Regions from separate parts of the Homo sapiens genome. Here region 2 is reported to be linked to region 1. The links are microRNA targets in miRTarBase. Many come from high-throughput screens and were not tested one by one. Region 1 holds a microRNA gene; the other region holds the end of a gene's coding sequence.
Evidence for each region. Region 1 holds the annotated microRNA hsa-miR-4999-3p (UCACUACCUGACAAUACAGU, at 1,280-1,299, shown strand). A microRNA usually pairs through its seed, bases 2 to 8, with sites in the 3' UTR of a target mRNA and lowers its output. Matches are read on the target gene's strand: a 7mer-m8 pairs with bases 2 to 8, a 7mer-A1 pairs with bases 2 to 7 and ends in A, and an 8mer does both.

Region 2: miRTarBase lists MARCHF4 as a target of hsa-miR-4999-3p. Seed matches in the 3' UTR shown: 7mer-m8 at 4,905-4,911.

Annotation. Positions count from the first base shown.
Region 1 is chr19:8,385,237-8,390,609 of GRCh38, reverse strand. MIR4999 (microRNA 4999) reads left to right here and starts at 1,230; the gene lies at 1,230-1,320. It overlaps RAB11B (RAB11B, member RAS oncogene family), which reads right to left and starts at 250. Exons shown (of 5, transcript NM_004218.4): 1 at 154-250. The coding sequence starts at 193. It overlaps RAB11B-AS1 (RAB11B antisense RNA 1), which reads left to right. Exons shown (of 3, transcript NR_038237.1): 1 at 1-601. LOC124904632 (a long non-coding RNA gene) reads right to left here. Exons shown (of 2, transcript XR_007067128.1): 2 at 2,451-4,446. RefSeq lists silencers at 1-117, 337-618 and an enhancer at 388-587.
Region 2 is chr2:216,254,273-216,259,645 of GRCh38, forward strand. It overlaps MARCHF4 (membrane associated ring-CH-type finger 4), which reads right to left. Exons shown (of 4, transcript NM_020814.3): 4 at 3,593-5,373. The coding sequence ends at 5,040. Among named protein-coding and RNA genes, the nearest start is that of LINC01963, 40 kb to the left of the region's middle.

The sequences.
Region 1 (5,373 bases):
GCCCGGTCGGCTCCGGCCTTCCCGGCTGCCTGACCCGCCGGGCCCCAAGCCCCGGGCTCCGGCCTGGGCCCAGCGGCCTGGAGCGCGGCCTTGGCCCGTCTGCCCGCCGCCTCGCCGCCACGACTTCGCCCGTCTGTGCCCCACCGGCCGCACCTTTGAATAGGTAGTCGTACTCGTCGTCCCGGGTCCCCATTGTCCTGGCGCTTCCGGCGGGATCGGCGACTCCGCAGCCCCACCACAAACACCCGACGGGGGCGGAGCCGGCGCCGCGCAGAGCGGCGGTTGAATGGCCTATCAGCGGCGAGTGGAGTAGCGACGGGCACCCAGCGAAGCCAATCAGAGATGGAAGTAGTGCTCTGAGGGTGGGCGCCGCTTGGTACCACCCTCCTCGCCCTCGGTGTCCTGGAGAAAGGCGGAAGGAATGCGGACCTTTTTGAAGTGACGGACGCGCCAGCCTATCAGGGGCGAGCTCAAGAGGGCGGGGCGGAAGACTGCAGGAATGAAATGGATTGACAGACCAAATAACTAATGAGAGGCTTGATTGAGAACCTACCCGACTATCAGAGGACCTGTCCGGGAAGAGAAATGGGGCTACGTCCAGGTAATGCTACGATGCTTAACGTCCCGATGACGTCATAGGTCAGCGCGCGCTGCCCTGGTCGCCCCCCAAGCCCATAAATGACCATTTCCGGGGACCTCAGCGCTGGGTCCCCTTTCTCGGTTGCAGTCTCCATCTCTATATTGGGACTCACTGGGTTATCCTTCTGTGCCTCAGTTTCCTCCTCTGTAAACTGAAGAAACCCGTCTCATGGAATCTTTTGAAAATAACCAGATCAGCCAGGCGCGGTGGCTCACGCCTGTAATTCCAGGACTTTGGGAGGCCGAGGCTGGCGGATCACGAGGTCAGGAGTTCGAGACCAGCCTGACCAACATGGTGAAACCCCGTTTCTACTAAAAATACAAAAATTAGTCGGGCGTGGTCGCTGGTGCCTGTAAACCCAGCTACTCAGGAGGTTGAGGCAGGAGAATCGCTTGAACCTGGGAGGTGGAGGTTGCAGTGAGCCGAGATTGCACCAAGTGTGAATCAACCGTCCACTTTCTGCTATTCTTTGTTAAATAAATACTTTTAAATCCTTACTGGATACCAATGCTCTCCAACAGGACCTCCTACCACTACCCCTCTTTTGTCCTATATTTTGCCACATAGGTAAAATATAAAAATAGGTAATATAGAAAATAAAACACATACTGCTGTATTGTCAGGTAGTGATAGGATTTATCACTACCTGACAATACAGTATGTGTTTGTTTTATATATTTAGGGTGTACAGCGTGTGTTTTGATACACATGTACCCAGTGAAATAATAATTATGACAGTTTTTTTTTTTTTTTTTGAGACGGAGTTTTGCTGTCGTTGCCCAGGCTGAAGTGCAATGGTGTGCTCTCGGCTCACTGCAGCCTCTGCCTCCCGGGTTCAAGCGATTCTCATGCCTCAGCCTCCCGAATAGCTGGGATTACAGGCATGCACCACCATGCTTGGCTAATTTTTTTGTATTTTTAGTAGAGACGGGGTTTCTCCATGTTGGTCAGGCTGATCTCGAACTCCTGACCTCAGGTGATTCGCCCACCTTGGCCTCCCAAAGTGCTGGGATTACAGGCATTTTCACCACACATGGCCAATTATGAGAGTTAAGCAATTAACCTATCCATTGCCTTCCATAATTAACTGTGTGTGTAGTGAGAGTATCTAAAATGTACTTTCTTGGCAAATTTTCAATATACTATGCAAAATTATTAACACAAAGTATACGTTACTTTTTGTTTGTTTGTTTTGGCTGGCTGCGGTGGCTTATGCCTAAAAACATGCCCTTTGAGGAGGCTGAGGTGGGAGGATCACTTGAGGCCAGGAGCTAGAGACCAGCCTAGGCAACATGTCAAAACCCAGTCTCTCAAAAAAAAAAAAAAAAAAAGAAAAAAAGGAAAAAAAAGAGAAAAGGAAAAAAAAGAAAAGAACAACAACAAAAATTAGCCAGATGTGGTGCATCATGCCAGGGTCCCAGATACTTGGGAGGCCAAGGCGGGAGGATCATTCGAGCCTGGGAAATCGAGGCTGCAGTGAGCCATGATCACCCCACTGCACTCCAGCTTGGGTAACAGAGCAAGACCCTGTCTCAAAAAAAAAAAAGCCTTGCTTTCCTGACCCATTGATCTGTTTGTTTTTTGTCCTCTGTCAGCAGCATATCAGCCTGATGACATCAGGGACTGTATCTGTCCCCATCATTGCTGTAAGTTCCCCACTGCTGAATAAATACGTTTATTTATTCAGTGGTGAATAATCTAAGCCTAGAGTCAATGTACTAGTTATTAGAGCAGATGCCATTATCGCCTCTTGGATCTCATTCCCAGGGTGTTCATTGGGCATCTGTCAAAAAAACAAAATTACAACACATTTAGTTTAAAGATCTTAATTGATTTTATTTGCAATTCTACAATCGGGCAACACTTCATTTCACAAAATGAAACTAATTTTCCCATGAGCTGAGCAGGTAGGTTGGTTTTACAGGCAGAAAAAGGGCCAAGTAAAGCACAAACAGAAAATAAAACGTGGAGGTCAGGTGCAGTGGCTCATGCCTGTAATCCCAGCACTTTGGAGGCCGAGGCAGGCAGATCACCCGAGGTCAGGAGTTCGAGACCAGCTTGACCAACATGATAATGATGATGAAACCCTATCTCTACTAACAATACAAAAATATTAGCCGGGCGCGGTGGCAGGTGCCTGTAATCCCAGCTACTCAGGAGGTTGAGGCAGGAGAATCACTTGAACCAGGGAGGCGGAGGTTGCAGTGAGCGAAGATCACACCATTGCACTCCAGCCTGGGAGAGCAGAGCAAAACTCCGACTCAAAAAAAAAGAAAAAAAGAAAAGAAAACTTGGATTGGTCATTTTAAAGTTTCCTTTTGGAGTCTGAGTCTTGCTCTGTCACCCAGGCTGGAGTGCAGTGGTGCGATCATAGCTCACTGCAACCTCAACTTCCTGGGATCAAGCAATCTTCCCACCTCAGCCTCCTGAGGAGCTAGGATCACAGGTGTGTGCCACCATGCCCAGCTAATTTTTTTTTTCCAGAGACAGGGTCTTGCCTTGTTGGCCAGGCTGGATTTGAACTCCTGAACTCAAGCAATCCTCCTGCCTTGGCCTCCCAAAGTGCTGGGATTACAGGCATGAGCCACCACCGCACTCAGCCCAAAGTTACTTTTCTTGTAAAGGTTAAAGCAGAGAGGACATCCTTATCATGATGGCTAAAACTGACCTGGTGGGAGACTTGGCTATCCCATCTCTCTCTCTCCTGATTTTGTAGAAGGTCAGATAAACAACTTAGTTTCTTTTTGATCACGTAAAACTTTAGCATGAGTGACTCCATTTTGGTTTAGTTTGTTGGGCCTGGTGTAGGAAGTCAGTCCAAAGTAATAGCCTCCTATAAGTTTTGTATAACACATCCTGTGTCCAGATTGGTGGGTTCTTGGTCTTGCTGACTCCAAGAATGAAGCCACAGACCCTCCGGTGAGTGTTACGGTTCTGAAAGATGGTGTGTCCAGAGTTTGTTCCTTCTGATATTCAGACATGTCTAGAGTTTCTTGCTTCTGGTGGGCTTTTGGTCTCGCTGACTTCAGGAGTGAAACTGCAGACCTTTGCGGTGAGTGTTACAGCTCATAAAGGCAGTGCGCACCCAAAGAGTGAGCAGCAGCAGGATTTACTGGGAAGAGTGAAAGAACAAAGTTTCCACAGCATGGAAGGGGACCCAAGCACGTTGCCGCTGCTGGCTGCGGTGTCCTGCTTTTATTCCCTTATTTGGCCCCACCTACATCCTGCTGATTGGTCCATTTTACAGAGAGCTGATTGGTCCACTTTACAGAGTGCTGATTGGTCCGTTTTACAGAGTGCTGATTGGTCCGTTTTGACAGAGTGCTGATTGGTGCATTTACAAACCTTTAGCTAGACACAGAGTGCTGATTGGTGCATTTACAATCCTTTAGCTAGACAGGAAAGTTCTCTAAGTCCCCTACGCGATTAGTTAGACACAGAGCGCTGATTGGTGCATTTACAAACCTTTAGCTAGACACAGAGCGCTGATTGGTGCATTTGCAATCCTTTAGCTAGACAGAAAAGTTCTCCAAGTCCCTACTCAACCAAGAAGCCCAGCCGGCTTCACCTCTCAATCACCCCTCTAAACAGAACACCCCAACTGCTGTTGGGAATTTGGCCGATGACCACTCTAGCTACTTCCTGCTGGAAGAAGGGGCCCTGCAATTGTAGTGTCCTCCAGAGGGGAACTCTTTAGGCCAGTGGAAGGGCCAGTGGGTCGGTCCAGGGGTCCTCAGTAGAAGTTGTTAGTTGAACTCATTTGGGGTTCCATTTTTAAGACCATCTGTAGCTTGATGGCCTCGATTCTAGAAGAAACAAATTTGACAAGAAGGTTAAAAATGCAGGGCCCAAAGGTGAGTAAGAGCAAGATGGCTGCCACAGGACCTAGGGGAGAAGCCATGTTGCCCAACTCCAGAGGTTGGTATTAGAGTTCGAAAGGCATTGTCTGATTTCAGAAGCCTTTTCCTGTAAATGCCAGGTGGCATCTCGTGCTATCCCTGACTGTTTAGTGTAAAAACAACACTCTTCCCCTAAGAAGGTGCAGAGTCCTCCTTTCTCAGCAGTGAGGAGGTCTAGGCCTCAGTGGTTTTGGAGAGTTGCTGCTGCCAAAGAGTATATTTGGGATTGTAGAGTAAGGATAGATTTTGTTATTTCTTACAAACTGTCTGAGAAATCCTTTGAAGGTGTATGGTAGTAGAATAATGAAGTGGATAAACTGGCTATTCCGGTTCCTGTAGCAGTAGCCATTCCTAACCCTATAAGTAGGGATATTAGTTGTATGGCCCTGCGCTGATAGACTTGAGCTTTGAGGGGCACAGATACGGTCTGATTTCCATAAGATTAGAAGTTAGGATAATACATGTTACACTGTTAACTTTTTTAGCAAACTTTACTTTTGTTGAAAACCTTGTAAGTTTGGGATTTCAATTATTCTTTGCTATTAGTAAGACCTTGTTCAGTCCATATTAACTTAGAATTGGTATAGATGGCTGCTTCCTGATTCTGTAAGTACTTTAAGATTTGGCTGAGTGGAAACAACTGGCATGTTTGAGCAGACCAATTATTAGGCAATTTTCCTAACTCTGCATCTACAAGAGTTTCCTTATCACTTACTGAATACCCATTGTGTCTTTTTCCCTTAATCGCCTGGGAGGAACCATCTATCATCCTGTCCTGAAGGGAGTTCCTCCTAGATCTGGTCAGACCTTTGTATGGTAATTAATTAAGATTTA
Region 2 (5,373 bases), not on the chromosome of region 1:
CTGTGATGGGCTGTGTGAGGAGTAGATGTGGGAGGAGGGAGGACCCATGATGGGGGCCCATGGTGGGATGAGTAGGTACTGAGCTAGCCCACTGACCACCAGCCAAGGCAGCCCAGACCCTGAACGAGGCCAGTTCCTCACACTTGGAGTCATTCCGGAGTTTCACTCTACTGTCCACAGCACCCCAAGGATTGCCTAGTTTCCATATTCTATTCTACCAATAAGGGGGGTGAGAAAGTGTGGGGAGAAGGTTTTGGGACTACTGCATCAATGCTGTGGCAGGATAATTTGAGGAAAGGTAGCGAGGAACAATACAATATGCGTTTTTCCTCCCACCCCCGCTGCCCTCTCACCTCCACAATACAAGAAATTCTGCTTACGAACACACAATTATCCTTAGAAATTGGTTATGGTCCTATCAAACCATGCCCCTACCCTCTGCCATACATCCGGATCTCACAGGCAAAACAAATAACAGTTATCTCATAGAGACTAAAACAATTCTATGATTTTGGAGTTTCTATGTTCTAAGATGGTGACACCTGATTTTCCTGAGAGGTAGGGACAAGACCTCATATTTGTGGGGTTCTCCTAAATGCTGTGGACTGTGACTAGAACCCCCAACCTGCCACTCCACACCACTCATTTGGAACCAGTGCCAAAAGTCTAATATCCAAAGAGGATAATTTTTTATTTTTATTTTTTAATTGGGAGGAGAGGCCTCTGTGAACCTATATGAATCTTGGCTCTTTCCCCATAAAAATATGATTGAACTATTCCTATTGCCCTTTCAGAATTCCATTGTTCTCAAATATAACCAACCCGCTATTATATAGGCTTCATTCAACCATGATATTATCTGGATATAACAGCAAGAATTGTCATGTAAACTCAGCTTTTTTTTCTGTAGGGGACATAAATCATTTATTTGTATTTACCCCAATCTCCAAAGCTTTCCTGTAGATCTCTCACATTCTAATCTCCCTGGTTGACCTGATCCAGATTTTCCTTAAATTGGCTGGTTGTCTTGAGGAAATGTGACAGAGTGGTTATGCTGAAAGCCAGATTGCTGGCCAGGCACGGTGGCTCACACCTGTAATCTCAGCACTTTGGGAGGCCGAGGTGGGCATATCACCTGAGGTCAGGAGTTCGAGACTAGCCTGGCCAACATGGCAAAACCCCGTCTGTACTAAAAATACAAAAATTAGTCGGGCATGGTGGTGGGTGCCTGTAATCCCAGCTACTTGGGAGGCTGAGACTGGAGAATCGCTTGAACCCAAGAGGCAGAGGTTGCAGTGAGCCAAGATTGTGCCATTGCACTCCAGCCTGGGCAACAAGAGTGAAACTCTGTCTCAAAAATAAATAAATAAATAAATAAGCAAGCCAGATTGCAGGGGATGGGATCCTGGCTGGTGACTGTAGGCACGTTACTTAACCTCTTGGCCTCAGCGTCCACATCTGCAAAATGAAGATAAGAATGGTATCTGTTTCATCAGGTTGCTGGACTGTTAAGTGAATTAATACATATAAAGCATTCCATTTGGTGCCTTGCACATAGTAAGAACTTCAGATGTTAGCTAGTATATTGCCCCATACATGGGTCATACTTGCAGATGATGTGCAAGTGAACTCTGCGCTACTTTTCATTACTCTGCATTAAATAATTCCACAGGAAATATAGACATTTGCCTCATGGTATGAAAGATGATCTGCACATCTGATAGAGGGCAGTGATCTCTGGTCATCAGTGTGTACTTTTACCTTGCTTCCCAGAGACGCATACAAAATATAAAACCCCAATTCATTCATTTCTGTACCCATAAATTCAACTCCCCAAGGCACTGGGAAATTACCATCCTGTTGGGTGGAGAAGTCAGAACTTGACCTTTCTTTTCTACTCTGTGATTGACCTTGTGTGTTAGAGCATAAGTTGAAAGAAGAGGAGGCGTGTCTCCTAGATGCTGAACGTACTCTTGCACTCTTCCAAGAGTGTCTTACTCATTCAAAAATATTCATTGAGAACCTACTGTGTGCCAGGTACTGCTGTGGGTCCTGAAAATACAGCAGTAAACAAGGCAGATGAGGTCTTTGTTCTCTTGGAGCTTGCATTATCAAGATCCAATAAACTCCAGCATCCTACAAGAGTTTATTATTAATTGCCTCTTCTTCTTCAGTACAACATATTCAAATGATGACCTTCAATGGCTGCAAGAGTCTAAAGAGCCTTGTGAACCACCAAAGAAAAACAACATCATGGCCACTATAGTTTTGATGATATGCATATTTTGTTGTATTATAATACCTTTTTTTCTTTTCTTTTTTTTTGAGACCGAATCTTGTTCTGTCACCCAGGCTGGAGTGCAGTGGTGCAATCTCGGCTCACTGTAACCTCCGCCTCCTGGGTTCAAGTGATTCTTCTGCCTCAGCCTCCCAAGTAGCTGGGATTACAGGTGTGTGCCACCATGCCTGGCTAACTTTGTATTTTCAGTAGAGATGGCGTTTCACTACATTGGCCAGGCTGGTCTCGAACTCCTGGCCTCAAGCAATCCACCTGCCTTGGCCTCCCAAAGTGCTGGGATTACGGGCATGAGCCACTGTGCCCAGCCTTTTTTTCTTTTTAGAATTGGGGTCTTGCTATGTTGCCCAGGCTGGCCTCAAACTCCTGGGCTCAAGTGATTTTCCTGCCTTAGCCTCCCAAGTAGCTAGGACTAAAGCATGTGCCACTGCAACCCACTCTGTAATACTTTTTTGAAAACAGATAGTCCATATAACACATCTATAGCCTCCATAAATGTTTATTTAAACTGAAAGCCCTGTTCCTAGACCATATTGAAAAATAAACATGCTTCCTCTACATGGTTTATTTGCACAGTGTGATTGGTTTTCATTTGTTTGTATGTTTTCCTTGTATGTGTCCTTCGGTCTCTCTCCAAGTGTGTCTTTCTTAATTCTCTGGATTTTGAGCTTCATCAGGGAGGAAGCTTTCTAAGCCTATGCACACCCGACTGATGTCATTGCCTGACCCACAGCCAGCCCCAGGGTGGGAGGGCCAGATTAAGTTGAAGGGAAAAAAAGATCTTGTCTGCTGCCTCATAATATGTCCAAGCCTTCTCATGAGGTCTTAACGTGGGTGCTGTCCTCTGATAGTCAAAGGACACTGTCAGGGCAATGAGGTCCTAACACTCCTCTCCTGTGTGTGGCTTTCCCAGCCTCTGTGAAATGACCAGATGAAGTGGAGCTCTCCAAACTGCCCCCAGCACCCATGGTCTCTGCTTCTAGGATTCCTGGGCAGAATCCTTGGGAGAGCCTGGGGCCTGAAGGACTCTGTCTGCTAGGATGCCAAGAAGAGGCCAGGAGTTTACTGCAGATTCACACACAGGCACACAGAAGGGAACATCCCTGCCTATCCTGCCCTGTCCGTGCCCTCAGAGGAGAAATGAAAACGTGCCTGATTTCTTGTGATGGGGGAGAATCTATCCCTTGGAGAATGCTCCAAGGGATGGAGCAGACACAGGGAGAAAGAAGGCTGTTTACACCACAGAGGGAGGATAGGGAAGAGGAAGAAAAACTCGCATATGGAAAGGGACACTAATGGTAGGGAAAGAAGTTTTATTTTCAAGCTTTTAAGAGAATATTACAAACAACAGAGAGTTTTAAAAAACCCTAAAAACTAGTTTAAAAAAGTACTTGACAGTGTCCTTTTAATACCCATGGATGACGCGACCACTGTGCAGTGACAACCAGAAACTTTGCAGGTGAACACCCAGTGGCCTTCCCTGGCAGGGTCCCCAGAGCGAGCAGGAGGGGTCCAGGGGTAGTGCTCCCTGCCAGGCACCCTTGGGCCCACCTGGCTACGCGGGAAGGAGCAGGGAGCACAAAGCACTGAGCATCAGCCTGACTGCCTCTTTGGGGAGGGTTCCAAACAGGGAGGGTTCCAAGCAGCAAGGAATACTTAGATTGGGCTCTACTCCACTCCTTGGGGCACACTGGTCAAGCTCCTCCCAACCACTGCAGCTGCTCTCTTGGAAGCCCGTAGGTCAGGGGTGCCCTACCGTGAGGGGACTGGGTCTGTGCATGTGCCAAGACAAGAAGGGGCTGGCATTGCACATGTCCTGGCCATGGTGGGGTTGGGTAGTTGGGAAAGTTGCTCCGGGATTGACAGCTTCCAAAGCTGAAGCCACAGCAGCAGAACTGTGCTTGAAATATCCACTGGAAATCTGTACTTTTCTCTAGGGGTGTGTGTGTGTGTGTGTGTGTGTGTGTGTGTGTGTGTCCTGTAAACATCTTTGAACCAAATCACTATAAAATAAATTAACAAGGGCACAGAAGGACACCCTTTTCCAAACCTAAGCCCTCTTTTAGCCCACCTGAAATCGGGAGTTCCATTTGGAAGTTCCTTCAGGAAGGAGACACACTCTCCCTCTGGCTGCTCACACCAGCATATCCCTCCCTGAGCATCCCTCCCTGACCATCCACCCCACCATCCCCACAGCCATTTGTCAGCGAATCTTGCCCATCCAAATGAGCCCAGGAGCCCCAAAGGCAGTGTGTCCCTGCCAGCTCACCCGTGCCTCCTCCTTTTCTGGCTGCCTGCAGAACACAGCCCCAGGAGAAACAAAACCAAACAGGGTGAGAGCAGAGCAGACCACAGATGCTTTTCCTCTTGGCCCCCTTGGCCTCCGGCACTGCCACAGTCACACAGGCTTTGCCTGCCCTCAGCCTCTGCTTCTTCGGGTACCTTGCCTGCAGGTGCATTGGGGCAGGGTTTTTCTGTTGGGCCAGGTTCAGCCTGTATTGCACTTTGTTGTTGAGTTGGTGTTGGTTTTCATTGTTGTTGTGGAGAGTGGCATTGACTGATTGGAAATAGCAGAACTGCTCCTGCACCAGCCTCACTCCCGCTCTGACACTACCCCAGGGCTCCCGCCAGGTCCCCCACCCTCTGCCTGCTCCCTCTGTTGGCTCTGGGGGTGCCACTGCACCTCCCCACCCTGCTCCGGGCCCTCAGTGGTGGTCATGGCCTTCCTTCCGGGCCTCTGCTCTCACACTGTCGTGACTCTCATGACCAGCTCTCGGCTGCTGCCTGGGGGACTTCGCTGTTCATGAGGTCTCAAGTGACTCAGGATGTGCAGGATGGTATAAGCACAGTGGTGATGGGACAGAGGGCCTGAGGGGTGGCCGGCAGCCTGGGCAGGGCCCTGCTCAGGGGCAGGGGTGCCTGCGGTCTCCTCTTCCGAGGAGGGGATATTGGCCTGGGTGGATGAGGAGGTCCGGGGGTTGGTCCTGCCTCCTGCCTTTTGATCCTCCAGGTCTTTTGTCTTGTCATAGTTCAGCACTTTCCACTGCTGGTTGACAGCCTGCCACCGTTTAAAGATG